Homo sapiens: one gene and its partners. Changing the gene in region 1 together with any one later gene gives a genetic interaction. Each region holds a gene or a part of one and is shown on either strand. Other genes may lie near its edges. The genes, in order: ETAA1, ANKRD18B, SCAMP1, FMC1-LUC7L2, PEX26, STK36 and PLCE1.

Region 1 (3,722 bases):
AGATATGTGTGTGTGTATGTACGTATATATGTGTATGCATATATATATACCTATAGATCTATTTAAATATTAATAAATCTGTATACCCACTATTTGGCAACTTGCTTTTGCCTTAATATATTATAGCTGTCTTTTCCTATTAGTACATATAAATTTATTTTAGTCCTGTTAATGACTATGTGATATATATGGTGGATGTATCATAATTTAACTGTTTCTCTGTGATGGAAGTTTGGGTTGGTTGCAGTCTTTTGCAATTACAAACAATACTCCAGTAAATATCCTTCTGCATAAATTTCCGCATGCTTGTATAATTGTATCTGTTAATTCCTAAAAAATTGCTACAAGAGGAAGTTTTAAAATTTGATGGATACCACCAAATTTCTATCCGAAGCAGTTATACCAATTTATCTTATCAAAACTTACAGTAAATAATTCTCTACACCCAAGGGTGTCCAATCTTTTGGCTTCCCTGGGCCACATTGGAAGAATTATCTTGGATCACACATAAGATACACTGACACTAACAACAGCTGATGAACTAAAAAAAAAAAAAAAAAAAATCACAAAAGAATCTCATAATGTTGTAAAAAAGTTTATGAATTTGTGTTGGGCTGCATTCAAAGCCATCCTGGGCTGCGGGTAGCTTGCGGGCTGCGGGTTGGACAAGCTTGCTTTACATGATAGCCCAAACTAGATATTTTGAAATATTAAAAATTGTTCTCAATCTATAATAATTTTAAGTATTTAAATTTGTATTAAAGTGAGCATATTGTAACTAAATCAAGCATGTTCCTAGCATGACTTTATTTACAGATAGAGTTGACCCTTGAACAGTGTGGGGGTTAGAGGCGCTGATCTGATTTGCAGTCGAAAGTCTGTGTATAACTTTTGATCCCCTAAAAACTTAACTGCTAATAGCCTGCTGTTGACCAGAAACCTTTCCGATAACATAATTAATTAATACATATTTTGTATGCTCTTATATGTATTATATACTGTATTCTTACAATAAGCTGGAAAAGTGTTATTAAGAAAATAAGGAAGAGAAAATAATATTTACTATTCATTAAGTGAAAGTGGATCATCATAAAGGTCTTCATCCTCATGATCTTCATGTCTAGTAGGCCGAGAAGGAAGAAGAGTAGGAGTTGGTCTTGCTGTCTCAGGGGTGTCAGATGCAGAAAACAACCTACAAATGAGTGGACTTGCCAGTTCAAGCCCATGTTGTTCAAGGGTCAACTATAGTTATAATTCTATAAAAGACTAAACCTCCTGGAGTATTTGAGTTTTCCCAAAACTCCTATCTACCAATCTATCTGCATTTTTTATGGATAATCTGCGTTTTAGCTTACCTTATCAATATTTTCTTTAAACTTATTGATAGTACTGAATCTCTTAATTACTATTAACTTTGTTGATGTTTTCTATTGTTTCTACTTCCTTTTACTTTGGTATGTAGCAAGCTGCTCTCCAGGGAAGTATCTCTGAAACAAAACTCACTTAACTCCCACATTTATTTCAGGCAGGAGTTGGCAAACTATGATCTGTCCAAATCCAGCCTGCAGCTTGTTTATGTATAGCCAGCACACTAAAAATGATTTTTACATTTTAAATGGTTGGAAAAAAATTAAAAGGAGAATAATATTTCATGACATTTGAAAATTATATGAAATCCAGATTTCATTGTCCATAAACAGGTTTTATTTGAATACAGCTCATCAGTTATTTATACATTATCCATAACTATTTTTGCTACAGTGGTACAGGTGAGCAGTTGCAACAAGATACTCAAAGGTTAACATTCTTGCTTTCTGACTCTTTCTTTACAGGAAAAAAAAAAATTACTGACCCTTGCACTGTAAGATCAAGATTAAGAAGAGCAGCTTTTGCTTAGTACTTTACAATATTTTAAGACTTCATTGTGTATTTTTATTATAGATTGAGTTAAAGGAAAGACTGATGGGAAAAATGGATGAGTCCCTAAATCAAATTTTCATGGTGTGACCTGATTATCATTTGAAATTATTTTCTATAATATTGCCAAGCAAATTGTAAGACCAACTTTAGGAAGTTATGTTTTCTGCTGTTACAGATTATTAACCTGTTTTCTTTCCACACAGTCAAATTCAGTGTAAAGTCTTTGGATGTGTAGTCTGAGTTTGTTGTGTTTCTCAGCTTTGAGACTAAAAGTATTAGATAATTAGTCAAGCTAATTAGAAAGTATCTTCTGGTGTCTCTCTTTAGGAAAAAATATCTACAGTCTGTTAGGTAAATAGCTTAGGAAATAAAAGCCATCAAAATCATCTGGGAAACTTATTTAAAATATGTATTTCTTAGCCTGAATACCCCCTCCCATTTCTGATTATACCAAGAAAGGAAAGGGAGGCAGATTATATATTTTGAAAATGCCTCTGTTAGTTAACAAGAGAAATGTCTCATAAATTGTGTATCTTTTTCTAAATGTCAGAATAAATGATATACTTAAATATGTATTAGGGTGATAGTCTTAAACTTAAAATATCATTTAAATGAGAAAGTGATTTCTAATACAAAGCCTCAACTTACTAAGTTAATTGAGATTATTTTAAAGTTTCTCCAAAATGCATCCTCCAAATAAAAATATAATTTCTGACAGTGAATCACAGGTAACCAGTTTGACATGACAGATTTCATTTTATCACTCTAAAATATATTTCCTCAGTGGATGAAATGAAAATTTTATAGCTCTATAGGGAAAAGTAGATGTGAATATTAATATAACATCTTATGTAAATATACACTGTTTGAGATTGATAACTAATTTAATTCCTTATATTTTGACTATTTTCCAATTAAAGTTTACATAACATTTTAAATCCCAATGTATCCTTTTTAAAGATATATTTATTCGTGGGTCATATAAATTAGATGTCATTGTCCACAAGAATTATTTGGTGGGTAGTCAGTTTTCTATCAAACTGAATTTTATCACACTGTGAAAAGAATGTATCAAATAGAGACAGATCCATCAGTGCTTGATTTTCTTTTGAACTGGAGCATTATATCTGTATTATGTACTTAGAATTTTATATTCAGTAGTTTAGTTTGATTTAATAGCCAACTAATATGGCAAATCTGGGTGATTAAAAAAAGCAAAAATTAAAGCACATATTGAATGACTTTATAGGCTATAAAAGTAAAACTCATCTTTTGTTGAATTTTTAGAGGAAGAAGAGAAAAATAGAAAGTGTTCTCCTGAAGAAATTCAGAGAAAAAGACAAGAAGCACTGGTTCGGAGAATGGCTAAAGCACGAGCCTCATCTGTAAATGCAGCTCCCACTTCATTTCTTTAATGAAATATTAGTTGGAAGACTTCACGAAGACTGCTGATAACTATCTGTGATTGATAGGAAATTTTTTTTCTTGATTTCTCTGTGAGAAATGTAATGCTGACTTTTATAAAGCCTGGACTTCTACTTTATTTAATAAATCAATGTTTGCAATGGTAAATGAAACATTTCCTTGGACATGTATTTGAAAGTCATTAAATACAAAAGTTTTGGAAATTCAGGAAAGTTAGCAATTATGTACGGATATTATACAGAGGAAAGTAGTTATATTTTTAAATGCTATTATTGCAGAGGATCATCAAAAAAGAGGTAATCTACGTTATTTCCTATTCTAATGTCTTTTCCTAATAAAAAACTTCAACTTTCTAAGTTAGTAGAGACTGTTTTTGT
Region 2 (4,594 bases), on another chromosome or scaffold:
TGTCTATCATCCAGGCAGAAGTGCAGTGATGTGGTCATAATTCACTGCAGCCCTGAACTCTGGGTACAAGCCATCCTTTTGCCTCAGTCTCCCAACTAGCTGGGTCTACAGGCCTGAGCCACCATGCCTGGCTAATTTTTTAAATTTGTTTTTTTTTGTAGAGATGGGGGTCTCACTATGTTGCTCTGGCTGATCTCAAATTCCTGGCCTCCAGTGATCTTTCTGCCACAGCCTCCTAAAGTGCTGGGATTACAAGCATGGGCCACCATGCCTAGCGTAGAGTATTATATTATTTTCAAAGTCTTATTCTGGGAGCCATTTATTGACTTTGGCCTAAATAACTCAATATGATATCTCTGAAAGGTTTTTTGACAAATTTTGGGGAATGATGATGAGGGAAGAGGGTTAGACACTTTTTACTAAGAGATAACTTAGTGCCATTTAAGGAGGAACAAAAATGAATTATCAGAAAAATAAAAGTAAAAGCAAGTGAAAAAGTTCTGTGGCAAAGATGATGTCAGTAAAGCATATTTTTGTGACTCATGGTAGCTTTAACTTTGTTCTTAAAATTCTGAGTAATTTAAGGGTTCACATTTGAAGAATCTACTACATTATAGATAACATTTTATTGCAAGTGGATGCATTTCAAAATTTGCTATTGGTTTTGTATTAGATTATTCTCAGCCTACTTCATTATCAAGCTCTATTATTTTATTAATGCAGTTTGATGATCTTATGGCCGAGAAGGAAGCTGTATCTTCAAAATGTGTCAATTTGGCCAAAGACAATGAAGTTCTTCATCAGGAGTTATTATCTATGGGAAAAGTACAAGAGAAATGTGAAAAACTTGAGAAGGATAAAAAGATGTTGGAAGAAAAAGTATTAAATCTTAAGACACATATGGAAAAAGATATGGTAGAACTTGGTAAAGTACAAGAATATAAATCGGAGCTGGATGAAAGGGCAATGCAGGCAATAGAAAAATTAGAAGAAATCCATTTACAGGTTAGTTTTTAAAATCAGGTAAGTTTATCTGTAATGGGCTTTCATTTATTTCACTGCAAACTGTATTTTGGATGTGTATATATTGTGTTTCCTCTGCCTCTCTTACGGCAATTTCCTTTGTAGAGCTCTAGAAAAAAGTGACGTTTTTTCCTTTTAAATATTTAAATTTCCATTATTATTATAACAAAATCAATCTTTCAAAGTAATGATTCTCACTATACAGTAAAAGGGGGAATTTGATGATTAAGACCAGTTGGCATAAGAGAAAACTGTGATTTAGAAATTATATGATACTTTTGAATTGGTCTTAAGCTACGTTGTTCATTGTTCACTTTTTAAAATTATAAATGGATTCTATTACTTTTTATAGGACCAGATTACATTAATACTAACATAATTATGATTCCAAATTTTTATAAATCAGACAATTCTGAATTCAGTTATTAGTTTTGTTGATATTGCTGATAAATATTTTAAGCTTCAGCCTCTTTTTAACATATTCAAAATTGCTCTTTGAATCACTGATTCAAAATGAAAGGCAACAAACATATGGTAATTAACTTATAATTGTTTTAAAAGTGTATTCTTTTCATTTGTTTTAGAAACAAGCAGAATATGAAAAACAATTAGAGCAGTTAAACAAGGATAATACGGCTTCACTAAAAAAGAAGGAACTCACACTTAAAGATGTGGAATGTAAATTCTCCAAAATGAAAACAGCTTATGAAGATGTTACAACTGAATTAGAAGAGTATAAGGAAGCCTTTGCAGTAGCATTGAAAGCTAACAGTTCCATGTCAGAAAAAATAACGAAGTAAGTCAAAACATATACTCATAGAAAATGAATTAAACTCATTAATTTGTTTTGAAAGCATAATTTTTAGTGAGATGGCTTCAGGAGATCAGTAGGAAGTGAATGCTAATTTGGTAATGTAATTTTGGAAAATAATGTTAGTAAATAATCCCTCCTTTAAAATGTTCATCAAGGATAGTTTCTGTCTCTCTTCTCTTTTTTTGCTTTTGTGTGGCTTTTTTCCCTGAAAAGTCTCATGTAGTTAACCTGACCAGTTAGTTTTTTTCACTAAGTATTTTTGAAGCTTTATGATAAATAAAGTGATCTTGTTATAAAATTACTTGTCAGAATTTTCCTAAATGGGAATATTAATGAGTTTAATTTATTTTTTGGTAGATCACAACCTGAACCCAAAGTGTCAAGTGATACTGCTACTCTGGGCACATCCTGGCACTCAGGCAGGGACTGTTTTTGAGTGTGATCTTTAGGTGTTATCACTAGAGGGTACCTCAAGAAAAACTATTTGTGTAACATTTTCAAGGTGTTACATAAAGGCATCCTTGTGAAAGAGGGAATAATTATCACAGGAATGAAAAGAAGGGTAATCCACAAGGTGGTTCAAAAATAACACCTTGTTCAGCCTGAAGGGCTGTGTGGAAGGCAGAAAGAACAAGCCCCACCTCCAGTGCCTTGGTCACAGTGTTGAGGGCTAATTGCCTTCAGAGATGCTGTAGTTCTTTTTGATCACCAACCAACCAGTCTAGTTCTCCCCCAGGAGTTGTTGCTCTGAGTTATTCCTCAGTGCCAAATACTTAAGTGTTCTTAGAGAATGGGTGAAATGTACAAGGGTGAAACCTGAAACTGGTTTACTAAACACAAGTATTTCTAGATTATTTTTGTTCATTTTAGTTTCCTTAATCTACATTATTTAAGGAGTACAACATGATGTTTTCATATAATTATTTATAGTGAAGTAGTTCTTATAGTCAAGCAAATTAACATAATCATTTTCCCACATAGTTACCCTTTAAATACAAGTATATCTAAAGGAATCTTTAGAATCTTATAAGTAGAGCTATTTTAGAAGGCAGCTAGGTTACCTGTTGAGCTGTACATCACTGATAGCCATTTCTCTTCCCTGTCTACTTTGAACTGCTTGTTCAGTAGAAATCACCTTAGAAACACATATACTTATTTAGAATGATTTTAAAATTACCGTTACTTACAAGAGGTATGCTCTCACACATCTTCGTGTGAAAACACTGTTTAATGGGTAATTTGGTTTACTCTCAGGGCAACTGTTTAAAAAATGCAAGTCATTAAGAATCATTCAAGGTAAAATGAAATACTAAGCATTTGTCTTTGCTCTCTTTACAGATCGGATAAGAAAATAGCTGTGATCAGCACCAAGCTCTTTATGGAGAAAGAGCGGATGGAATATTTTCTCAGCACTCTTCCTATGAGGCCAGACCCAGAGTTACCTTGTGTTGAAAATCTTAATAGTATAGAACTCAACAGAAAATATATTCCCAAAATGGCCATAAGAATTCCTACTTCAAACCCACAGACTTCAAATAACTGCAAGAACTCCTTGACTGAGGTTAGTTATATGACCATTTCTCTTTTGGGTTTCATTTCTCTAATATAATTCTTGTTTATAATTTGGTGAAATACTGAGTTGTTCTGTTGACTTATGCATGTTAAGTAAAGATTATAATTAGCTGTGTTAACACAGAAAGGAAATGGAAACTTTACATTTTTTAATTCCCTGGAGCTCTCATTTTCAAGAGACACCCATTTGCTAACTTTATTCAATAAATGTGGTTAAACTGACACATTTAAAATTTCTCTAAAAGCTGCATTTGTTAGGTTTTAAAAAATGCATGTTATTGCCTAATAACTGATGGTATACTTTGAAATGCTTTGTCTTACTCTACGTGACTGTAGTTTGTCTGTGGTTCATATCACTTTTTTTTTTTTTTTTTTTTTGAGATGGAGTCTCACTCTGTTGCCTAGGCTAGAGTGCAGTGGCATGATCTCAGCTAATTGCAACCTCCGCCTCCTGGGTTCAAGTGATTCTCTTGCCTCAGCCTCCCAAGTAGCTGGGACTACAGGTGCCTGCCACCACACCTGGCTAATTTTTGTATTTTTAGTAGAGATAGGATTTCACCATATTGGCCAGGCAGGTCTCGAACTGACCTTGTTATCCACCCACAACAGCCTCCCAAAGTGCTGGGATTACAGGGGTGAGCCTCTGTGCCCAGCCCATACTATTTTTAAAGTTTATTTGCACCAACTTAACTCTTTCCACCCATAATCACAAGCGAATGACAGGCAACCAAACACTTAACAACATATAGATATTTATTATTTAATAGAACCCAAAATAAGTGCATTTTATGAATTAAATAAAACACTGAAAGTTCATTTCCATTTTTCTGTTAAAACCTTTGTGCTTGGCCAGGTGTGGTGGCTCACGCCTGTAATCCCAGCATTTTGGGAGGCTGAAGCAGGCAGATCTCCTGAGGACAGGAGTTTGATACCAGCCTGGCCAACATGATGAAACCCCATCTCTACTAAAACTACAAAAATTAGCCAGGTGTTGTGGCAGGCACCTGTAATCCCACATGCAGCAACCCCATTACTATACTAGGGATATACCTAAAGGAAAATAAATCATTGTAACAAAAAGATACATGCACATGTATGTTCATTGCAGCACTATTCACAATAACAAAGACATGGAGTCAATCCAGGTGCACCCAAGGTAGATTGAAAATCCAAGGTAGATTGGAA
Region 3 (4,594 bases), on another chromosome or scaffold:
AAGACAACTTCTCTGTCATGTGGGTAAAATTTTATAAGATTCTTTTTCCTTGAAAGATGTTATCTAGACATGATTTGCTTGGAAAAAATAGTGCATACTAATTTTATGCAGAGGAAGGCCATTTAAAAGAATTCTGTTAAATGTAGGCGTTTTAGCTATTTTTAAAAGGGCATAAAATTATTACATAAACTAAGTGTTCTTTTTATAGCTTTGAGTACAGTTTACTTTTTGTTTTCAATTGCGATACTTTTATTATTGAAAGTGCTTAATTAATACAGGACATTTTGTTGAACGGAACATTAGAATATACGTTTGGGGCTCTGATGCTTACATCACTTTGAGTATAATAACTCATGGAATACTGAAACAAAATGTCAAGCCGTTAACAGTTTTACTCTGTGTGCACAGACCTCCCACTTACTCTCTGTTTCATTTTTATTCCAAACAGTAGTCTCAGCCTCATTTTGATACCCTGTCAGAAGGGGAGGTAGCTATTGAGGGTTCTCACATGCACAACATCTGGGTTAATGGATAATTTGTAGGGTACATTCTTGATGGAGGAAATTTACTTGTTTTTACTTTATGATTAATGAGACTACCACCCTTCCCTTAATGGATGAGATAATTTTCCTTAAAATCTTTTAGGAGCATTCTTCATGTATGTCAAGTTGTTTTGGAATGTGAGAAGTGTTTCCTAATGGATAGTCTATTTTTAACTCTTCATTAGTATTTTTCGAGATATTCTTGATCTAATATCTTTTGCTGAATCCTCAGTGTCAGTAGTATATATTTTTAATATTAAATGTCTGATTCCATATATGTACATGCTAACCAACTCTTATTTAATCAATATAATATATGCATTTATATTTTATATATGTTTATTTTTTTAAATGGGCAGAAATTGTCCTAGCATTTTATTTTATTTTGAGACAGAGTCTTGCTTTGTTGCCTAGGCTGGAGTGCAATGGCACGATCTTGGTTCACTGCAACCTCCGCTTCCCGGGTTCAAGTGATTCTCGTGCCTCAGCCTCCTGAGTAGCTGGGACTACAGGCACATGCCATCACGCCTGGCTAATTTTTGTATTTTCATCTATACTTGGAATAATTTTCATGAACTTTAAAGTGTAATTATACATATATTTTATCTTTCTTTCAGTGGATTAGGAAATAACCTAATTTGAAAATTGAAATTTAAGTTAGAATGTTCTTAAGGTCTAAAACTTTTTAAGGCAGCTGGATGCTATTTAATGCTGCAGAGTAATAATTTTCTATTTCACAATCTTCAATTCTGTTTTTAAGATCTTAACACAACCACCCTTATTTTGAGGCCAAGGGTTTTGAGTAAATTTATTATGAGCAAGCATTCCTGAGAGTTAAAAATCCTAATGGGACTAGAGTAATGAGTGAGAGTGTCTCTTTTGTGATAGAATTGAATGGGATTTTAAAGTGGGAAAAGCTCCTGCATTTCTATGGCTGAAAAATTGAAGCTTACAGAGGTTGAGTGATTGGCTTAATATTAGATGACTACAACCTAAGTGACTTCATCTGGAGCTCTTTTTAAAAAAAAACAAAAAACAAAACTCTAGAGCTTGTTTACTTATCTGGTGGGTTAGGTAAGAGCAAATTTAGGCATCCCAGAATGTGTGTGTGTATCCTGTTTCATTAATTATTAACTTATTTGATTTGTAAAGAAATCTTAAAGTTTGAGATTTAAAAAACTAGATCCAATAGGTTTTCCCAGTTGTTAATTTTAATTCAAGTAATTTGTTGGCATATTTTTATTGATTTGATAATTTACATTAAACATCATTTTAGCTTATATAAGAATGTACTTACTATAATAAATTCAGCCTGTGAATAAATTTTTAAAAAATCCTTTGAAACAGTTATTAATTACAATGGGTCAAAGTAGTTCTTTAGGATCATGGTATAGTTAGATGTTACTCAGATTTTTTGTTTTTGGTCTGTCAGGGAAAGCAATTATTAACAGCATATGATGAATTTGTCAACATCTATTTGTGTTAACCAAAAGAAAAGCCTGCCACAGTAGCTAAAATGTATCATGTTGTGTGGGGGAGTGAGGAGGGGACTTAATAAATTTAATCCTCTACCAAAACGCAAGTTTTTTTCAGGATTTTACAAATGGACAGCTCTATGAAGTTGAATGAACAATCCTTATACATTGACTATATAGTCACTAGAAATTGCTACTGTATTAGTATTTTTAGTCCAGTGTTTAGTCTGCAGCCCCATTCTGTAAAGATATGGTTTTTCCTCCTAAGTCCTGGGTCTTTTCCTGGCAGACACTGCTTTTCTTCTTGGGCTTCAGATCAAGAGACATCACGTTTCCTTTTCGGGAAGAAGCCCTTAAGGTAGTGCGCCTCTGGTTTAGCTACATCATTGCCTGTGAGGAGGAGAGGGCCAACAGAATTTTTGCCAAACAGTACATGTATTAAGACTCGCTTTCCTGTGTATACTCTGTTTTCAAATCAAATATGTAAGATACAACAGTGTTTTGAAAAATATAAATGGAAACATGGAGTAGAATACATTTGCTCTTAGGAAGTATTTTTTTATTTACAATTTTTTGTTGGATGAATTCATAAATTGAATGTAAATCTTTCTTTTTCTATTTTGTTTTCTGATTCCACAGTCCATGCAGTAACACTGTTTCTAAATATCTTCGGATGCTTGGCTTGGTTTTGTGTTGATTCTGCAAGAGCGGTTGATTTTGGATTGAGTATCCTGTGGTTCTTGCTTTTTACTCCTTGTTCATTTGTCTGTTGGTACAGACCACTTTATGGAGCTTTCAGGTAAAATGTGTGTACTTTAAAATACACTCTTTAAAACCTGTGAAGTAAATAATTCGTAGTATACATTAAAGGGAAAATTGATGCATTTTCATTAAAAAATTCTTGTATTGTTGTGTAACATACCTTCAGGAAAGTTCAATATAGCATGCCTGTGTATTCATTGGATTTTGTAAGTCATAAAATTCCATTTTTTTCTCCCATTTGATAAAAGACCAAACATGAAAATTGATGGAAAAATAAGAACAGTCTTAGAAGTTAATATTTATAAAATATTCTCTTCCATATGTTATACTTCAAGGAAAATTTTGCTGTTTGCCCACCCCACCTCCCAAATCAAAATCCCAATTGGTGCTTATGGTTTTTTTTTTTTTAAATTAACCTAAGTAAGGTAAATATACATGCAATATTTAAAATGAGCCATTTGCACCTAGCAACTTGGATTATTTTCTTTATAAATCCATTTTAGGTTTTTTCAAAGGCAGCACCATTTTAAAAACGATTTATGCTACTAGGTTAAGTATAATGCTTTACATAGTATATTTTAATCAGTGGTTAGGGTTAACATTTCCTTAGCGCATGTTCTGTGGGATATTAATAGGTGCTGGGGGAGAAAAAAAGAGCTCATAAGCTTAGTAAATTTGGGAACAGCTGGATAATAAGGTTAAGCAAGTTTCTTCATTTCAGGATTTCTTACACTCTTTAAGTACCTAGTATGATTTGTGCCTTATGACTTGACCATGCAACCATTATTTTTCTGTGGAGTACTTTGTTGGACTATTGCTTTAAGAAGTATTGGGAAATACTGATTGAAATGATAGTCCTATATGGGTTCATATATTTAATAGTTTTTTTAAACTCATTTTTATTTGAGTAAATTCTTGTGAATAACCATTTCAACTCTCGTGAATAAGGGGTAACATTACTAGGATATATGCGTGTGTTGTTTAAAGGATATATTAGGGAAATTAGAGGCCCACATTTAAGTGTTCAGTATGTTTTGCCATTGCAACCTAAAATCTCTTTAGTTAACCAGAATGTGTAACACACGCGCGCGCGCACACACACACACACACACACACACACACACACACAGAGTTAGAAACCCAGATCTGTAAACAGATGAGGGAAAAACAGAAGAGAACAGGAGATGGGAGAACATTAGGGAATTTGGAGAGAAAATGTATCAGACAATGAAGAAGTAAATTATTACTTAGAAATGGCATAAAGAGAAGAAATGATGAGAGGAGGAGTGAAGGGAAGAAATGATGGGAGAAGGGAAAGGAGAAAAGAACCTTTGGATACATTGAAATATGGGAGATTGGTTGCCAAGGAACGGGGAGAGCTTCTCCTGTAGAGATGGGTTGGAGAGGAATGAAAGGAACATAGTTACTCCTTGCATGATCTGAGTTATTGCTGTTATTTTCTTCGTTATCTAAGCATGGCTCACAAGGCTTTTTCTGTTTTTTGTTAGTTTGTTTTGTTTTGTTTTTTTTGGACATCTAACCTCTGCCTAATGACCTCCATCACATTACCAATATGTTATCGATCTGTGATGATGCTGGCTGGTGGGAGTGAGGATATCTTTATGAAACTTTTCAAAAAAGTGACCTGAGACTAGGGAATTTGGATTTTAAACCTTCTGTTACTTATGTAGCCAAAATAAATGACTAAAAGCCAGCTTTGTGCCTTTTATTTCCTGAAGTCACTTGGTATCTTTTTTTTTTCCCCCATTTTGGCAGTTGAAATAAAAATGCTTGGTGGAACATTTTTACTTGTGG
Region 4 (4,594 bases), on another chromosome or scaffold:
GTGTATCAGTTCATTCCTTTTTATTTCTCCATTGTACAGATATACCACAGTATTTTTATTTGCTTTTAAAAGCAAATGTTAAATGTCAATATTTCACCTGTAAGTTATAACCACAGTAATACATACATAAAGTTAACAGTAATTTTTTAATGTTATCCAGTGTATGTTTATTTTTCTTATAGAGTCGATTTATTAGAATCCAAACAAGGTCTTTTATATTGCATTTGTTGATGACTTATTACAACATAATTATATTCCATTCAGTATGATCAAGTGTGTTTTATGAAAATGCAGAATGGGAGAAAAAGAGTTACCCAGGTGGAGTTTAGATGACAGTATTAAAATATGGTGTTCAGATATGTATATACAAATGAAAATAGATTCCATCGTTTGAGAAAAGGGTTGCTTTTAGTCAACCTTTTCTGAAAATTCTCTGAAGATGGGGACTGGAAAGACGGGCATCCTGAAGTACAAAGGATCTAGTATCTCATGGTTGGAAGAGATCTGTAAGTGCTTGGTAGAGCCTGAGTTGTATTGGTTGTATTGGTTATCCATCACTACACAAATGCTGTATAACAAACCACCTCAAAGCTCAGTGACTTAAAACACTATTTATTTAGCCCATGACTCTGCAGTCAGTGATTTAGGCTGAACTTGACTGAGCAGTTATTCTTGTTTCAGCTGGGCTTACTCACATGCCTTGCAGTCCACTAGAGGATGCAGAGCCATGCCCAGCAGGCTAGCCTGGCCGTGTTCTCATAGTGGTGGTAGAGGTGCAGAAGCATCAAGCCCCATCACACAGGCCTCTCCTTTGGTCATGTTTGCTACCATCTCAGTAACCAAAGCAAGTTCATGGCCAAATTCAGAGTCAGAGTACGATGGTACACAATTACATGGTCAAGGACATGGATACAGGGAAGAAAGAAGAGTTTTGGACAACAGTTTAGTCATTCAATGATACATTTAAAGGAAAATACCATTTGGTAGAGAGGGAGGATAGTGATAATAGAATTGGACTCTCATTGAGGGAAGAAATATTTTGGGTTGAAGGATATTTGAGAAGTAAAGACTATTAATTAAACCAGTAAACTGGTTTGTTGGGACTGGAAACTCATACCAAACTAAAACCTTCGGCCGGGCGTGGTGGCTCACACCTGTAATCCCAGCACTTTGTGAGGCCAAGGTGGGTGGACCACTTAAGGTCAGGAGTTTGAGACCAGCCTGGCCACCATGGTGAAACCCTGTTTCTACAAAAACTGCAAAATTAGCCAGGCATGGTGGTGCACGCCTGTAATCTCAGCTACGTGGGAGGCTGAGACAGGAGAATTGCTTGAACCCAGGAGGCAGAGGTTGTAGTGAACTGAAATCATGGCACTGCACTCCAGCCTGGGCGACAGAGCAAGACTCCATCTCAAAAACAACAATAACAACAAAAAATTAAAACCTTCTTTGCTAACATATTATAATTGGCCATACAGCAAAGACTTTGTGGCCCAAATAATGATTATATGTATGTTTTATGTGCCATTACAACAGTAGGAATGAACTAAGTTGCTAGGATGATGATGGTGATGAGGAAGAGGAACGTATTCTTTCCCAAGGCCAGAGTTAATCCTGGTGGAAAGCTAAGGACTCATAGAGTGGAGTTGCCAGGCGAGTATGCTGAAAATCAGCAAGGTGCTATGCAGGGTACATACGAGGCTTATTTTCTCATTTCTCACAACTTTGTGGGATAGGTACTTCTTAGATGAGGAAATGAATTCAGGTATAAGTAATGTGGCCAAAATTACACAGATAGTAATTGGTTTAGCAATAAGTCAGATCTGATGGATTCCTGAACTTGATCCACCAATTCATTTCTTTAACTCATATTTGAGCCTAGGCTATTTGCTGAGCACTAGAGATACAAAGATGGGAAATACAGATAGCTGTCCTTAAAGTAGTATGATATTTATGAAAGGAACTGTCAAAAAAGATACAAAGGTGACACAAAGGAGAGAGTATGGCCATCTTTGCTGATGTGTTTAAGTGGGGCTGGGATGTGGTGACTGTTCAGGAATGTTTTACAGAAATGGCCCTTGAGTTGTATCTTGTTGGAACGAGTGAATATTCAGTAGGCAGGCGAGAGGTAAGGGATCCCATCCCAGAAAGAAGAGTATATGCAAAGTAACAGAGGTAGAAAACAACAGGGTAAGTTTGGGGAAACTATAAATTATGTTGTGAGGTGGGGGAGTAGCAAGAGATGGTTTAGAAAAGTACAAAGGGCCAGATCATGGAAGAAATCGTATTTTACACTAGGAATACACCACCTCGCCAGAGGATAGAAAGTTATATTGGGCCCAGTAGTAGCCCTGACTTCATTGAGGTAAGGCAGGCAGGCTCAGAACATCCTGATGTCTCAGTAGTTCATTTGGGATACGCTCAGAAAGCATTCTTTAACCACATACTGCCTTAGATAACAAGTTTTTTCTCAGCAGTTCTGAAATACTTTGAAATTTAAAATTCATTCTCTTGTTTATTCATGATCTTCTTTTTTATTTCTTTTTAGGCAGAACGTGTTCATGAGTTAAATGAAGAAATTGGTAAATTGTTAGCCAAGGTGGAACAACTAGGAGCTGAAGGGAATGTGGAGGAATCCCAGAAAGTAATGGATGAAGTAGAGAAAGCACGGGCAAAGAAAAGAGAAGCAGAGGTAAATTCTTAATAGTAGTAGACGAATTCTGCTTAATTTGGTAAGACTACAAATAAAAAGTAGTAGATGAAACTTCAGTATCTATACTTCTCTAAGAACATGTATTTGAATGGAAATTATTGAACAGTTGTTAAAGAGAAGTTGAACTAAAAGACAAAAACAAAACAAAACTCGGAAAAAGCTGGTTGTGGTGGTGCGTGCCTTTGGTCCCAGCTATTTTGCAGGCTAAGGTGGATCGCTTGAGTCCAGTTCAAGTCCAGCCTTCTTCTTTTTGTTTTTTTGAGATGGAGTTTTGCTCTTCTTGCTCAGGCAGGAGTGCAATGGCATGATCTCAGCTCACCGCAACCTCTGCCTCCCGGGTTCAAGCGATTCTCCTGCCTCAGCCTCCCAAGTAGCTGGGATTACAGGCCCATGCCACCACACCTGGCTAATATTTATATTTTTAGTAGAGACAGGGTTTCTCCATGTTGGTCAGGCTGGTCTTGAACACCCAACCTCAGGTGATCCACCTGCCTCGGCCTCCCAAAGTGCTAGGATTACAGGCATGAACCACTGCACCAGGGCCTTTTTTTTTTTTTTTTTTAAGACAGAGTCTTACTCTCTCTCCAAGGCTGGAGTGTAGTGGTGCGATCTCAGCTCACTGAAACCTCTGCTTCCTGGGTTCAGGCGATTCTCTTGCCTCAGCCTGCTGAGTAGCTGGGACTACAGGTGTGCACCACCATGCCCGGCTAATTTTTTGTATTTTTAGTAGAGATAGGCTTTCACCATGTTGGCCAGGCTGGTCTTGAACTCCTGACCTGGGGTGATCTGTCCACCTCAGCCTCCCAAAGTGCTGGGATTACAGGCGTGAGCCACCCGGCCTGGCCTGTTTTTTTGTTGTTGTTGTTTTTTAAAATACTTTTGGTAAATTTGTCTTTCAGAAAATCTCTCTAAGTTGTATTTATTGATATAAAGTTGTTCATAGTGTTCTCTTTTAATATCTGTAGAATGTTTGCAATTCGTGTCTTTTCTTAATTAATCTAGCTGGTCAGTTTTATTTTGTTTTTCAAAGAACCAGTCTTCTGATTTTATTGTTTTTTTCTTGTTTTCTATTTCATTGATTTCTGTTCATGTTTATTATTTCCTTATACTCCAGTGGAGAGAGGCGCTAAGGATAGAGGATGGGGATAAAGGGAACCTATAATTTTCATAACAAAATAGCCATGCTTTTGTGGTTTTTTTTTTTTTTTTTTTTTGAGCTGGAGTCTCGCCCCAGTGAGCCACCGTGCCCAGCCACTTTTGTGTATTTTTTAGAAAACACTTTTGGTATAAGCATAGTATATTTTATTTAATTGTATGACTTTTAGTGAGATTTATATGGTCATTGTTTTTCTCACTTTTGTTTAGGAAGTTTATCGGAATTCTATGCCAGCTTCCAGTTTTCAGCAGCAGAAACTTCGAGTCTGTGAAGTCTGCTCTGCCTATTTAGGACTTCATGATAATGACAGACGACTGGCTGATCATTTTGGGGGTAAACTGCACCTGGGATTTATTGAAATAAGAGAGAAGCTTGAAGAATTAAAGGTACATTGGTAAAATATTCCTCACTTTATCCTCTTGTTCTTTTGATCTGTATCAGTTGCCTTTTTGTACAATATTCTTGACTATGATTCAGTAATATAGTATCTAATGATTAATACTAAACAGTGTAGGATTATAGATGGAAATTCAAGTTGGTTTAATGGATGCTGCCTGAGAAACAGACTTAATATTATCCTGTTATTTTGGGAGTTACCATTTTATATTAGATATGACACCGAGTTAGGGATCTTTCAAACTAGTTACTAAAAGAGTCCCATAAAACTTCATTGTTATTGTTCTTTTCAATAAGGTCAATAAGAATGTAATAATATAATATTTATA
Region 5 (4,594 bases), on another chromosome or scaffold:
TAATCCCAGCACTTTGGGAGGCTGAGGCAGGTGGATCACAAGGTCAGGAGATCGAGACCATCCTGGCTAACATGGTGAAACCCCGTCTCTACTAAAAATACAAAAATTAGCCAGGCGTGGTGGTGTGCGCCTGTAGTCCCAGCTACTTGGGAGCCTGAGGCACGAGAATCACTTGAATCTGGGAGGTGGAGGCTGCAGTGAGCCAAGATCGTGCCATTGCACTCCAGCTTGGGCAACAAGAGCAAAACTCCGTCTCAAAAAAAAAAAAAAAAGAGTTTAGTAAAAGGGTATTAGGTATTGGCTAAAGCCTTCATTCCTTAACTGCACATACTCTTGCAAATCTCATGAATATAAATTGTTTTCCTCGTGTTTATTACTTATTTTGACTATATATTATTTACTATATTGAATGCATCTTTGTAAAAGTTTTTTAAAACCTTTCAGAACCTTTCAGGCCAGGCGCAGTGGCTCATGCCAGTAATCCCAGCACTTTGGGAGGCCAAGGCAGCCAGATCACGAGGTCAGGAGATTGAGACCATCCTGGCTAACACGGTGAAACCCCGTCTCTACTAAAAATACAAAAATTAGCCAGGTGTGGTGGCGGGCACCTGTAGTCCCAGCTACTCAGGAGGCTGAGGCAGGAGAATGGCGTGAACCTGAGAGGTGCAGCTTGCAGTGAGCGGAGATCGCATCACTGCATTCCCGCTTGGGCGACAGAGCGAGACTCCGTCTCAAACAAAAAAAAAAAAAAAAAAAAAGAGAGAGAGATGGTGACTTTCTGTCCTTGAAGTATTCACAACTAGACTAGATCATCACTCAAGGAAAAGGGCGGAAAAGATTCAGCGACCAGGGAAAGGGTCTGCAAATTAGTTTCTGATATTCCTTTGGCTATCCCAGCAGATCTCAGCTGTGTCTGTATTGGGGCCAGCATTTAAAGGAGGAAGGACATCCCACCCAGACCAGTATGGTGGAAGCAAGAGACCTCATCAGAGGACTCCAATGGGAAAATGACTTTCAAAAGACAAGTCAAGGTCCCAAGACCCAGCAACACCTTCCCATGTGGAGATTCTCCTTCCACTGCCAACTTCAGAGGGTCTGGCCTTCACTTTGTGAAGCAAATCAACAGGCCTCCTATTCTGTGACTCAAGAGTTATTCATACAAAGAACTGCTTCTAAGCTCGCAGGAGTTTCACGACAGACCCCGAGGTACAGTGCAAGCCCGCAAGTCCACTTTACAGAGGTCGCAGAGGGATAATGTCCTACCTTCCAGGTTTGGCTTCTGGGCCTCCTCAGAGCCTGAGTGTTCCTGTTTCTGCTGCTGCCTCGCTGTGTGAATGGCCTGAAGTACATCCAGTCGCCGCTCCTCACCAAAGGCTGCAGAGCCCACCACTAGCTCCTCAGCCTCCGATAAGCAGCCCAGAGGCAGCAGCACCCGCTGCACGTGAAATTCTGCCAAGGCTCCATATTCTGGAAGGTTTTGATTGGCTGGGTCTTGGAGCCAGGCACCCACCACATCCAGCACAGCTCCAGGCTCTTGCATTTTGCTGTATAAAAGAATGCTGCAGTCCCCAAAAAACCCAATCCCAACAAAAGAAGAGTCAGTGCTCAATGATTGGTTCATTTCCCATGACCACTATGCTTCTCCTATCCAGCCCCTCCTCACTGTGTCCTCGAGCCCTTTCCGATGAAATGATGATGCTCATGGGAATTCCCCACGACACACCCATCACTAACAGCATAATCAATGGGAAAAGCTGAAAGCCTTTCCTCTAAGATCAGGAGCAAGACAAAGATGCCTACTTTGACCGTTTTTATTCAACATAGTACTGGAGGTCATAGCCAGAGCAATCGGGCAACAGAAAGAAATAAAAGGTATCCAAATTGGAAAGGAGGAAGTCAAGTTATCCCTGTTTGCAGACAGAACTAATAAACGGATTCAGTAAAGTTGTGGGATACAAAAATCAATGTACAAAAAACAGCGTTTCTATACGTGACAGTGAACCATTGGAAAAGAGATCAAGAAAACAATTCGATTTACAATAGCTACCAAAAAAATAAGATACCTAGGAATAAATTAAACCAAGCTGGCAAAAGATCTCTACACTGAAAACTATAAAACATTGATGAAAGAAGTTGAAGGGGACACACAAAAAATGGAAAGATATCCCGTGTTCATTCACAAATTGGAAGAATATTATTAAAATACCCAAAGCAATTTACAGATTTAATGCAATCCCTATCAAAACACCAATGGCATTCTTCAGAAACAGAAAAAACAATCCTGAAATTCGTATGGAACCACAAAAGACCCCAAATGGCTAAAGCAGTTGTGAGCAAAAAGAACAAAGCTGGAGGTATCATATTACCTGACTTCAAACCATACTACACAAAGCTATAACAGTAACCATAACAGCATGTTATGGCATAAAAACAGACAAAATAGAACAGAACAGAGAGCCCAGAAATAAATTCATGCACCTACAGCCAACTGATTTTCAACAAAGGTGCCAAGAACACACACAGGGGAAAAGACAGTCTCTTTAATAAATGGTGCTGGGAAAATCGGATATCCATATGCAGGAGACCAGACCCCTACCTTTCCCCACATACAAAAATTAACTCAAAATGGATTCAAGACTTAAATGTAAAATCCAAAACCATGAAACTACTAGAAGAAAGCACAGGAGAAATGCCTCACAACACTGGGCTGAGCAAGTGTTTTTTTCAGTAAGACCTTAAAAGCACTGGTAACAAAAGCAAAAATGGACAAATGAAATGACATCAAACTAAAAACTTCTGCACAGCAAAGGAAGCAATTAAGAGTGAAGAAACAACCTACAGAATGGGAGAAAATATTTGCAAACTATCCATCTGACAAAGCGTTAATATCCAGAATATATCAGGAACTTAACAGCAGAAAAAAAAAAAAAAAACCTGATTCAAAAGGGAAAAAGACCTCAACAGACATTTCTCAGAAGACGACGTACCATGGCCAACAGGTATATGAAAAAATGCTCAACACTACTAATCATCAGGGAAATGCCAATCAAAACCACAATGAGACACTACCTCGCTCCAGTTAGAACAGCTCTTATCAAAAAGACAAAAGAAAACGAGTGTTGGTGCGGGTGAGGATGTGGAGAAAGGCAGCACTTACACACTGTTGGTGGGACTGTAAATTAGTACAGCCATTATGGAAAACAGAATGCAGGTTCCTTTAAAAAATTCAAAATAGGAAAGACGGCACTTCCTTTTTGTAAGTGGTGGCAAGTGCTGAGAGAATGCCATGAAGGCCTGGGGCACACTGAGAGAGTATTTGCTGCCTGCCCACCCCCAAATGCCACATGCTGCCCCTCTACTGCCAGCAAATCTCTGCACCTAAGCAAGTTGTGCCAAGTCCCGCTTCTGGTACTGCCACCGGCCGACAGTCAAGCAGTTCCACAATTCCAAGATCAAGTTCCTGCTGCCCTACCAGGTCCTGTGTCTTCAGCACAAGCCACACTCCAACATCAAGAGTCCCAACACCTTCTTCTAGGTACAGGGAACTGTCACCGGGTGTCATCAAAATAAACTTAAGAATGGCCAGGTGAAAAAAATAAAAATAGAACTACCACATGATCTAGCAATCCATTATCTCCCCTGTTTAATGCAGCACTATTCACAACAGCCAAGATATGGAATCAACCTAAGTGTCCAACAACAGATGAATGGATAATGTGTGTGTGTGTGTGTGTGTGTGTGTGTGTGTGTATATGTGTACATATATGTATATTATGTGTATATATGTGTTTATATATGTGTATATATATACACACACGCATATATATATATATATATATATATAATGGAATACTATATAGCCATAAAAAAGAATGAAATCTTGTCATTCATGACAACACAGGTGGACCTGGGGGACATCATGTTAAGTGAAATAAGCCAGGCACAGAAAGATAAATACTACATGATTTCACTCATGTGAATCTTTAAAAAAAAAAAAAAGTTGATATCATAGAAGCAGACGGTAGAACGGTGGTTACCAGAGACTGGGAAAGGAAGGAAGAAAAGGAAGACGGGAAGAGGTTCGTCAATGGGTACAAAGTTACGGTGGGATAGGAGGAATAAGTTGTGGTGTTCTATTGCACGGTAGGGTGGTTATGGTTAACAGTAAGGTATTGTATATATAAAATAGCCGGAAGAGAGGCTTTTGAATGTTCCTGTCACAAACAAATGATAAATGCATGAGGTGATGGATATGCTAACTACCCTGATTTGATCATTATACAACATATACACAGCATATATTGAAATGTCTAATTTACCCCATAAATATGTACAAGTGTCAATTTTAAAAACTTTGTTATTTTTTGGCCAGGGGCGATGGCTCACATCTGTAATCCCAGCACTTTGGGATGCCGAGGCAGGTGGATCACGAGGTCAGGAGATTGAGACCATCCTGGCTAACACGGTAAAACCCTGTCTCTACTTAAAACACAAAAAAATTAGCCGGGCGTGGTGGCAGGCGCCTGTAGTCCCAGCTACTCGGGAGGCTGAGGCAGGAGAATGGTGTGAACCCGGGAGGTGGAGCTTGCAGTGA
Region 6 (4,594 bases), about 150 Mb from region 1:
TCCTGTCTCCCAGCCACTTGTCCTTTATCCAAGAGCTTCTGGCTGGCTCTGATGAATCCTATCGGCCCCTGCGCAGCCTCCTGGGCCACCCAGAGAATTCTGTGCGGGCACACACTTATAGGCTCCTGGGACACTTGCTCCAACACAGCATGGCCCTGCGTGGGGCACTGCAGAGCCAGTCTGGACTGCTCAGCCTTCTGCTGCTTGGGCTTGGAGACAAGGATCCTGTTGTGCGGTGCAGTGCCAGCTTTGCTGTGGGCAATGCAGCCTACCAGGCTGGTCCTCTGGGACCTGCCCTGGCAGCTGCAGTGCCCAGTATGACCCAGCTGCTTGGAGATCCTCAGGCTGGTATCCGGCGCAATGTTGCATCAGCTCTGGGCAACTTGGGACCTGAAGGTTTGGGAGAGGAGCTGTTACAGTGCGAAGTACCCCAGCGGCTCCTAGAAATGGCATGTGGAGACCCCCAGCCAAATGTGAAGGAGGCTGCCCTCATTGCCCTCCGGAGCCTGCAACAGGAGCCTGGCATCCATCAGGTATACCCTACAGCACTTATGAACCATGATGATCAGGGCCCCTATAGTTGACAACATTTCTCTGAGATCATCTGTAAGGAATTGGAATCGGGACATGGAGAAACTTATGCCGTGTTTCTCCCAGGGACAGTGTCTTGGAGTGAGTTTTCTAGTTACATCTCCTGCCTTGGAGGAGGGAAGGGAGCTAGAAGAGGGCTCCAATGGGCTGGGAAATGTCTGAGATCTCAAGGACCACAGTTGATCTCTTCTAGAGGCTGTGCAGGAGGGAGATGAGGGAAGACTAAGAGATGCTGAGATAGAGTAGTTTTACTCTGTGTGCCATGAAGGTGCTGACTATTTTTTTTTTAGACTTACCATGAGAAAAGCACGATGCTAAGCATTTTACCTTTATTATCTGGTTTAAACTATTATTATCCTAATTTTGCAGATGAGGAAACTGAGGCACAAATAATTTAATAACTTGTCCAAATTACAAGGACAGTATGTAGGATTGGGCTTTTGAACTCAGAAGTCTGAGTCCAGAGCCCGTACTCTTAACCACTACTTTATCCTTCCTCTTCTGCGCAACTTTCTTTTTCCTTTTTTTTTTTTCTGAGACAGAGTTTCACTCGTACTGCCCAGGCCGGAGTGCATGGCATGATCTCGGCTCACCACAACTTCTGCCTCCCGGGTTCAAGCAGTTCTCCTGCCTTAGCCTCCCGAGTAGCTGCATTATAGGCATGTGCCACCACGCCTGGCTAATTTTGTATTTTTAGTAGAGACAGGTTTCTCCATGTTGGTCAGGCTGGTCTCGAACTCCCAACCTCAGGTGATCCACCTGCCTTGGCCTCCCAGAGTGCTGGGATTATAGGCGTGAGCCACTCTTTTTTTTTTTGAGACTGAATATCACTCGTTGCCCAGGCCAGAATACAGTGGCGCAATCTCAGCTCACTGTAACCTCTGCCTCCAGGTTCAGCCAATTCTTGTGCCTCAGCCTCCTGAGTAGCCGGGACTATAGGTGCCTGTCACCATGCCCGGCTAATCTTTGTATTTTTATTATTTATTTATTTATTTATTTACTTATTTATTTTTAAGATGGAGTCTCGCTCTGTTGCCCAGGCTGGAGTACAATGGCACAATGTTGGCTCACTGCAACCTCTGCCTCCCAGGTTCAAGTGATTCTCCTGTCTCAGCCTCCCAAGTAGCTGGGATTACAGGCACACACCACCTTACCTGGCTAATTTTGCATTTTTAGTGGAGACAAGGTTTCACCATGTTGGCCAGGCTGGTCTTGAACTCCTGACCTCAAGTGATCCACCCGCCTCAGCCTCCCAAAGTGTTGGGAATACAGGTGTGAGCCACCCTGCCTGACCGCGATTTTCAGTATATAAAGAGTCCAGTAGGCCAGGCTCTGTGGCTCTTGCCTGTAATCCCAGCACTTTGGGAGACTGAGGTGGGCGGATCACTTGAGGTCAGGAGTTTGAGACCAGCCTGGCCAACATAGTGAAACCCTGTCTCTACTAAAAATACAAAAATTAGCTGGGTGTGGTGGCAGGCGCCTGTAATCCCAGCTTCTCGGGAGGCTAAGGCAAGAGAATCCCTTGAACCTGGGAGGAGGAGGTTGCAGTGAGCGGAGATCATGCCTCTGCATTCCAGCCTGGGTGACATAGCGAGACTCTGTCTCAAAAAAAAAAAAAAGCCCATTGGAAATCACAGATATCTACATATGGTAATATAAATTATGACATCTCAAAGTGGTAGCATTGGGAAGTTCATGCAGAGCAGAAATTTGAGAGGATGGTGAAGATCTTTTTTTTTTTTTTGAGACGGAGTCTCACTTTGTCGCCCCCAGGCTGGAGTGCAGTGGCGCGATCTTGGCTCACTGCAAGCTCTGCCTCCCGGGTTCACGCCATTCTGCCTCAGCCTCCCGAGTAGCTGGGACTACAGGCACCTGCCGCCACACCCAGCTAATTTTTTGTATTTTTTTTTTTTTTAGTAGAGACGGGGTTTCACCGTGATAGCCAGGATGGTCTCGATGTCCTGACCTCGTGACCCGCCCGCCTTGGCCTCCCAAAGTACGGGATTACAGGCATGAGCCACCTTGCCTGGCCGATGGTGAAGATCCTATAGGAATCTTGTGCAATCCATGGGGAAAATAATTAATGGGATTCTTGGTGGTAATGAGGTTAGAACTCACTGGTCTGCATTGAAGGCTAGGAATTAGACCTTTTGGCTTACTGTGAGTTACTGCTGCATTCATCAAGTCTTCCTGGGGACAAGTATATGTGTCCCTTAGTGCCTTGGTTTCATGGTCTATAACCAAAGAGAATGGAAGTAGACTTCTGGTCCTGATGATTCCTATCTCCAAGGTTTCTCTTCTGCCATTCAGTCTATTCCAAGTCCCCAAGAGCCCATTTCCTTTTTCTTCCTCTTCTCGAGTGGGAATTCCTGGGTAAATGAGAGTCCTCCGCACCTGCCCCAGACACCACCATTTCTGAGCCTCATGTTCTGTTCTATCATCTGTTCTCTATCCTACAGGTACTGGTGTCCCTGGGTGCCAGTGAGAAACTATCCTTGCTCTCTCTGGGGAATCAGTCACTGCCACACAGCAGTCCTAGGCCTGCCTCTGCCAAACACTGCAGGAAACTCATTCACCTCCTGAGGCCAGCCCATAGCATGTGATTCCAGATTCCTGCGGTCCAGCCTCCAACTTTGGTTGCCAGCTCTTTCTTATTCTACTACACAAGCCGCCAACTCAACTGAGAGCTAAAGAGACTAGAAAAGAGATAAGCTGCCAACTCAACTGAGAACAAGAAACTAGAAGAGATTTATATATAAAGCTTCTTCCTTCTCCCAGATGCAGGATGTTTTCAACCAGTAAATTTTATTGCTGTTGGTGCCAGAGAAGAGTCCTTTCTTCTCTACATCCAGGGGCCTTTTCTCCAATAATGTGCCTTTAACTCTAGGGACCTGCCTCACGGACCTTAGGGAAAAACCTCAACCTGAAAGATCTCTTCCTTTCTGGAGCTCCTTTAATCTTCCCAGCAGGTTTTTGCCTTAGACGTGCTGGCCCCAGGACAGTGATGAAGACAGAGCCTGTCTCAGCTCTAGGCTGTGGGGATCAATGCCATCAGTCCCTGTTATTGAGGGATTATCCCTTAGCCAACATTCCTATCTGTGGGTGGGCGTGGAGAGTGTATCTTTTTTTGGGGTGTGTGTGTATATGTGTGTGTGTATGTGTGTGTGTGTTTAATAGTTCTGTTTGTAAACTCTTTTAATAAAAGTTGTGCCTCACCATACTTGAAGCTCCCAGGACAAGGGTTGAGAGGCTCAACCCCTCTTTCAGCTTCTATGTGGTGTTGGAGGTGCTGGTATCGTGTTCACACAAGATCCTGGTCTGGCAGCTTATTTATATCATTTCTTGCCTTTACCAATTTCCCCCTTCCTAGATGAACTATATTTGGTTACCTACTTTCAAGTCAAGGCCGGTGGAGCTGAAATAGGAAAGGGTAAGATTCAACAGAGCGGTCAATTAGGTTGCTCAGACTTAGTGACTAATTTTAATATTTAGTGGAGTTCTAATGTGTAGGGACTCCAAGCTGCTGTAGAAGGATAGCTATTTTAAAGATTGTACAATTTACCAGAAAGGGCTTTTAGTCAGACCTGTTAGAATTATAATCTAACTGGAAGCATTGGAAAACCTTAACTCATTGGATGGCTTAGAACAAGCTTCCAGGGCCTTGATTTCTCCATCCATAAAATGAGGAGACTCCTTTCTGTCCTTCCTTAAATTCCAGTTGTTTTAGAAATGAAAGACAAGTAAAGTGCCCTTATTTTTATAAGAAATTTTGTTTAACCCTCATCTTCATTGTCCACAGTGTTTATACTTTAGCAAAAATAATATTTTTCTAGGGAGCACCATAATTTTCTTCTATCCAGATTATCTCAATTCAGTTCAATGTATATTTTTTGAGTCCTTTCTGTATGCCAGATACTATTCTAGGTACAGGAGATAAAACAGTGCCCATCATAGAGTTTCCATTCTGGTCGGGGAGATAGTGAAATTATTAAAAGAATAGTAT
Region 7 (4,594 bases), on another chromosome or scaffold:
CACAGTAACTTCTAATAACCGAGGCCAGGTGTGGTGGCTTACGCCTGTAATCCCAGCACTTTGGGAGGCTGAGGGTGGACCACTTGAGTCCAGTAGATCAAGACCAGCCTGGCCAACATGGTGAAACCCCCTCTCTACTAAAAATACAAAAATCAGTCAGGCATGGTGGCATATGCCTGTAGTCCCAGCTACTTGAGAGGCTGAGGCAGGAGAATTGCTTGAACCCGGGAGGCGGAGCTTGCAGTGAGCTGCGATCGTGCCACTGCACTCCAGCCTAGGCGACAGAGCAAAAAAAAAATTTTGAGTAACTTTTTATAACCGTATTCTAATATTCTTTATAACTGTATTCTTATCTTTAGCAAGGTATCTGACCATAAGCATAAGAAAACAACTACTAGATGAGTTATTGTATTTTTATTCTCAACAACAATAATCTTTATTATGTATTAGTTTTCCTTCTTGTGTCAGGAACCGTGTTAAATACTTTATGTACATTTTTTGTACTAAATCCAATCTACTTGCAAGGTAAGTTTTATTATTCTTTTTCTACCTATGAGGAAACCGAGGTTCAGAAAGGGAAAGTAATTTGTTCAAGGTAACCCCTCTCAGAGGAGGCCAAGCCAAGGTGAGATTTTGGTCTAACTTTATACCTGGGATTTTCATTGTTAGGCTTGTTTGCCTTCAATTAAATCATAAACACAAGTCATGATCTGAATATACTGGGACTTTAGTCCTTTTTAGGTTTTTTTAACCTTTTTAGGTTAAAAAAGGACTTAATAGGCTGGCTTGAGAAGTACCTCTGTTAAACTGTTAAAAATAAAATACAATTAGTTCAAAGATACTCCTTGGAAAGAAAGTAGGCAGACTGCTTGAGCCCAGAAGTTTGAGACCAGGCTGGGCAACATGGTGAGATCCCATCTCTACAAAAAATACAAACATTAGCTGAGTATGGTGGCATGCCTATAGTCCCAGCTACTTAAGAGGCTGAGGTGGGAGGATTGCTGGAGCCTGGGAGGTAGAGTCTGCAGTGAGCTGTGATGGCATCGTTGAACTCCAGCCTGGGCAATAGAGCAAGACCCTGTCTCAAAAAATAAAAATAAATGACATTTAAAAAGGACACTCCTTGGGAAATATGGTCACGGTGGCCAGAAAAGCATAACAGTTCTCCTGGACTCAACCTTAGATTTCTACTCTCTCTGTGCATGTGTGTAGGTATACACAGAAAAGGCTAGTTTGCATAGAAAATTTAGCACGTTCCCTCCGCTGAGTCAGGAACCTGGATTATTTGAGCCAAGAGGATCAGAGAACAGTGAAGGCAAGCGATTGCTTCTTTCTTACATGGCCACCTTGGCAGGAACCTGCCCAAGAGTCTCATTCTTTTCAAAGCATAGGAAGTTGTTAGTAAGATCAAGGTTTCTGCTATTTGGTCCACAGACATCACCAGCAAAGTGGTGAGTAAAATTGTGAAGGAGCTGGTACATAGGCTGGTCCACGCGTCTCTGGGAAGGAAGGCTCTCATGCTCAGGAGACACTTGGGCCACCTACTGCCTCTTGATGAGGCAACGACAGTATCATGGGGCTTGTTGATACTCCTCAGTTTAGACTATGGTCCCTGAACAAGATTACCATTCTTGCTTTCAAACAGCAGGTTCTACATCCTTGCCCCACACGTGGATATTCTTTAAAAAAAAAGTCTACCACAAATATTGAATTTTAGTGTCTCACAAATCTGACGGTGAGAAAATCCATTTCAGAGCCCCATACCAGAAATAACCAAAAGTCCAGCAACAATAAAATGTATGCATAGATTTTGGTGTATTCATGCAATGTAATTCTGTACAGCAATGAAAATGAATAAGCAATAGCTAACTACATGGAATAACACAAATTTTAAGCAAGACACACAAGAATGCATATGGTATGTATTTGTGATACATAAATACATACATTTCTGTAAATGTCAATTTCAAAACCAGGCAAAAACTATACTGTACTATTTAGGAAGGCATATTAGTAGAAAAACTACAAAGAAAAACAAGATGTTATTGTAAAACTTATAATAGTAGTTTTCTCTAGGGGGAGGCTGGTAATAATTCAGAAGGGAAATAAGAAGTTTAGGGGTGCTGGCAATGTTCTAACCCTGGATGCTAGTTATGCTCAGTCACCTGATAATTATTCAAATACACTGTTTCGATAAACTTTTAATTTTAGGATAGTTTTAGATTTATAGAAAATTCCAAAGACAGTGTACCTCACACAAAAATTTCCCTATTAACATCTTACATTAGTCTGGTATATGTGTCATAATTCATGAACAAATCCTAACACATTATCACTAATTAAGGTCCACACTTTATTCAGATTTTCTTAGTTTTTAATGTCCCTTTTCTCTTCCAGGATCTCCCATTACATTTACTTGTCAGGTCTCTTTAGGCTCCTCTTGACTATGAGGGTCTCTCCTTGTTTTAGGTGCTCTTGACAGTTTGGAGGAGTACTGCTCAGGTGTTTTCTTGAAGGCCCCTCAGTTAGGACTTGGCTGATATTTTTTCCATAACTAGATGCAGGTTATGGGTTTGGGGAGGGAAGACCATAGAGGTAAAGTATCATTCTTATCACATCATATTGAGGGCACCTACTACCAACATGACTTCTCTCTGGTGATACTGATCACCTGGCTGAGGACCTGTGTGTCATGTGCCACTGTACAGTTACTACTATTATTATTTTTAACTCATTTCCATACTCTACTCTTTGGGAAAAAGTCACCATGCCCAACTCACTCTTAAGGAGTGGGGAGTTATGTTGCACTTCCTTGAGGGTGAAGAATCTGCCTAAGTTATTGGGAATTCTTTTGCACAAAAGATGGATCTCTTCTCCCCCATTTGTTTATTTATCATTTACACATATCATTTACTTGTATCAGTATGAGCTCATGAATATTAATTTAATACTTTGGGTGATTTATAATGTGATACTACTTTATTTATTTTGTTGCTGTGGCTATTGGGAGCTCTTCCAGTTGGTTCTTGTATTCCTTTCACAGCTCCCATCACTGTGTGTTTCTTTTGAGAACTTCCTTACTACAACATGCTCCAGGCTCACCTTGTGTATTTTCTGCCCCAGTCCTCGAATCAGCCTCTCTAGGAGAAACCTTGCCTCCCTTTACTGAAGAATGGTATTAGAAACCAAGATCTGGGCCATGCGCAGTGGCTCACATCTGTAATCCCAGCACTATGGGAGACCAAGACAGGTGAATCTCTTGAGGCCAGGAGTTCAAGACCAGCCTGGCGAACATGGTAAAACCCCGTCTCTACTAAAAATACAAAAATTAGCTGGGCGTGGTGGCAGGCACCTGTAGTCCCAGCTACCTGGGACGCTGAGTCACAAGAATTGCTTGAACTTGGGAGGCTGAGCTTGTAGTGAGCAGTGAGCTGGCATTGTGCCACTGCATTCCAGCCTGGGCAACAGAACAAGACTCTGTCTCAAAAAAATAAAAATAAAAAATAAAACAACAAAAACAAAAAAAACACAAGATCTGGGGTTACATGATATTTTATGCTCTTTTCCTAATGTTACTTCATAATAAAAAGTGAAATAAGAAAAAAATCATTTGTGTCTTATTTAGCTCCATCCCTCTGAAATTGCTCTCGGTAACACTGGAAAACCAATACTTATGTCCTCTTACACAATGGCTTCATACATGCCTGCTGCAGTCATCCTGGGTTTAATGTTAAACATCACCACCTGTTTCCTGTGTGACCTCATCAAAACACTCAACCTCTCTGAGCCTCACTATTAGATGGCAAAAAGACAATGCTCATCTCATAGAATAATGGTGAAGATCAAATAAGATAACAGTTGGAAAGCACTTAGCACAGCGCCTGTCTTGGTAAAGTACACTCATTAAATATAGGAAGACCAATTCTTTGCACTTTTCCTTTCTCACTTCCTCTTCTCTAGGCTACCTCAGCCCAGCCCAGCTGTTCCTCTAGAGGGGCTTTTTTTTTTTTTTTTTTCTGGAGATGGAGTCTTGCTCTGTTGCCCAGGCTGGAGTGCAGTGGCACAATCTCAGCTCACTGCAACCTCCGCCTCCCAGGTTCAGGCAATTCTGCCTCAGCCTCCTGAGTAGTTGGGATTACAGGTGCCCGCCACCACACCCGGCTAATTTTTGTATTTTTAGTAGAGACAGGGTTTCACCATCTTGGCCAGGCTGGTCTTGAACTCCTGACCTTGTGATCCACCTGCCTCGGCCTCCCAAAGTGCTGGGATTACAGGGGGGAGCCACCATGCCCGGCCAAGGGGCTTTCTTTTGGGACCATTTCCACATTCTCCATGTCCTACTTCTTGTTGTTTTAAGAGCAAAAAGGATTCAATTGGTGAGTGTTAGTACCCATTAAAATACAACATGTAAATTTGTACATAGAACTTCTGATTTTAATTTAGCAAGATAAATGGTGTTTTCCATATTCCATTTAAGTTCTGAGTTAAGTCAAGCATGTTCCAGTGAAATACCACAAGCATTATAAAAAAATAGTGTCTGGAAAGAAAAATTATAAGGCTTTTCTGGAGCCTGTTTCTGCTGCTCAGAGATGAT

What was found.
Region 2: changes in ETAA1 (region 1) and ANKRD18B are lethal when combined (synthetic lethality), as found in Homo sapiens cells (one large-scale study listed by BioGRID).
Region 3: changes in ETAA1 (region 1) and SCAMP1 are lethal when combined (synthetic lethality), as found in Homo sapiens cells (one large-scale study listed by BioGRID).
Region 4: changes in ETAA1 (region 1) and FMC1-LUC7L2 are lethal when combined (synthetic lethality), as found in Homo sapiens cells (one large-scale study listed by BioGRID).
Region 5: changes in ETAA1 (region 1) and PEX26 are lethal when combined (synthetic lethality), as found in Homo sapiens cells (one large-scale study listed by BioGRID).
Region 6: changes in ETAA1 (region 1) and STK36 are lethal when combined (synthetic lethality), as found in Homo sapiens cells (one large-scale study listed by BioGRID).
Region 7: changes in ETAA1 (region 1) and PLCE1 are lethal when combined (synthetic lethality), as found in Homo sapiens cells (one large-scale study listed by BioGRID).

The regions. Positions count from the first base shown.
Region 1 is NC_000002.12:67,406,704-67,410,425, forward strand, and holds part of ETAA1 (ewing's tumor-associated antigen 1), read left to right. Parts: intron 1-3,207; coding exon 3,208-3,335; 3' UTR 3,336-3,722. UniProt on the Homo sapiens protein: Replication stress response protein that accumulates at DNA damage sites and promotes replication fork progression and integrity.
Region 2 is NC_000009.12:33,565,496-33,570,089, forward strand, and holds part of ANKRD18B (ankyrin repeat domain-containing protein 18B), read left to right. Parts: intron 1-723; coding exon 724-1,005; intron 1,006-1,607; coding exon 1,608-1,819; intron 1,820-3,175; coding exon 3,176-3,398; intron 3,399-4,594.
Region 3 is NC_000005.10:78,419,145-78,423,738, forward strand, and holds part of SCAMP1 (secretory carrier-associated membrane protein 1), read left to right. Parts: intron 1-2,656; coding exon 2,657-2,816; intron 2,817-4,594. UniProt on the Homo sapiens protein: Functions in post-Golgi recycling pathways. Acts as a recycling carrier to the cell surface.
Region 4 is NC_000007.14:139,403,096-139,407,689, forward strand, and holds part of FMC1-LUC7L2 (FMC1-LUC7L2 readthrough protein), read left to right. Parts: intron 1-2,548; coding exon 2,549-2,692; intron 2,693-4,078; coding exon 4,079-4,255; intron 4,256-4,594. Other genes in the region: LUC7L2 (putative RNA-binding protein Luc7-like 2), read left to right, coding at 2,549-2,692, 4,079-4,255. UniProt on the Homo sapiens protein: Plays a role in the assembly/stability of the mitochondrial membrane ATP synthase (F(1)F(0) ATP synthase or Complex V).
Region 5 is NC_000022.11:18,080,402-18,084,995, reverse strand, and holds part of PEX26 (peroxisome assembly protein 26), read right to left. Parts: intron 1,560-4,594; coding exon 1,264-1,559; intron 1-1,263. UniProt on the Homo sapiens protein: Peroxisomal docking factor that anchors PEX1 and PEX6 to peroxisome membranes. PEX26 is therefore required for the formation of the PEX1-PEX6 AAA ATPase complex, a complex that mediates the extraction of the PEX5 receptor from peroxisomal membrane.
Region 6 is NC_000002.12:218,698,816-218,703,409, forward strand, and holds the end of STK36 (serine/threonine-protein kinase 36), read left to right. Parts: coding exon 1-533; intron 534-3,050; coding exon 3,051-3,194; 3' UTR 3,195-3,900; downstream 3,901-4,594.
Region 7 is NC_000010.11:94,241,212-94,245,805, reverse strand, and holds part of PLCE1 (1-phosphatidylinositol 4,5-bisphosphate phosphodiesterase epsilon-1), read right to left. Parts: intron 1-4,594. UniProt on the Homo sapiens protein: The production of the second messenger molecules diacylglycerol (DAG) and inositol 1,4,5-trisphosphate (IP3) is mediated by activated phosphatidylinositol-specific phospholipase C enzymes.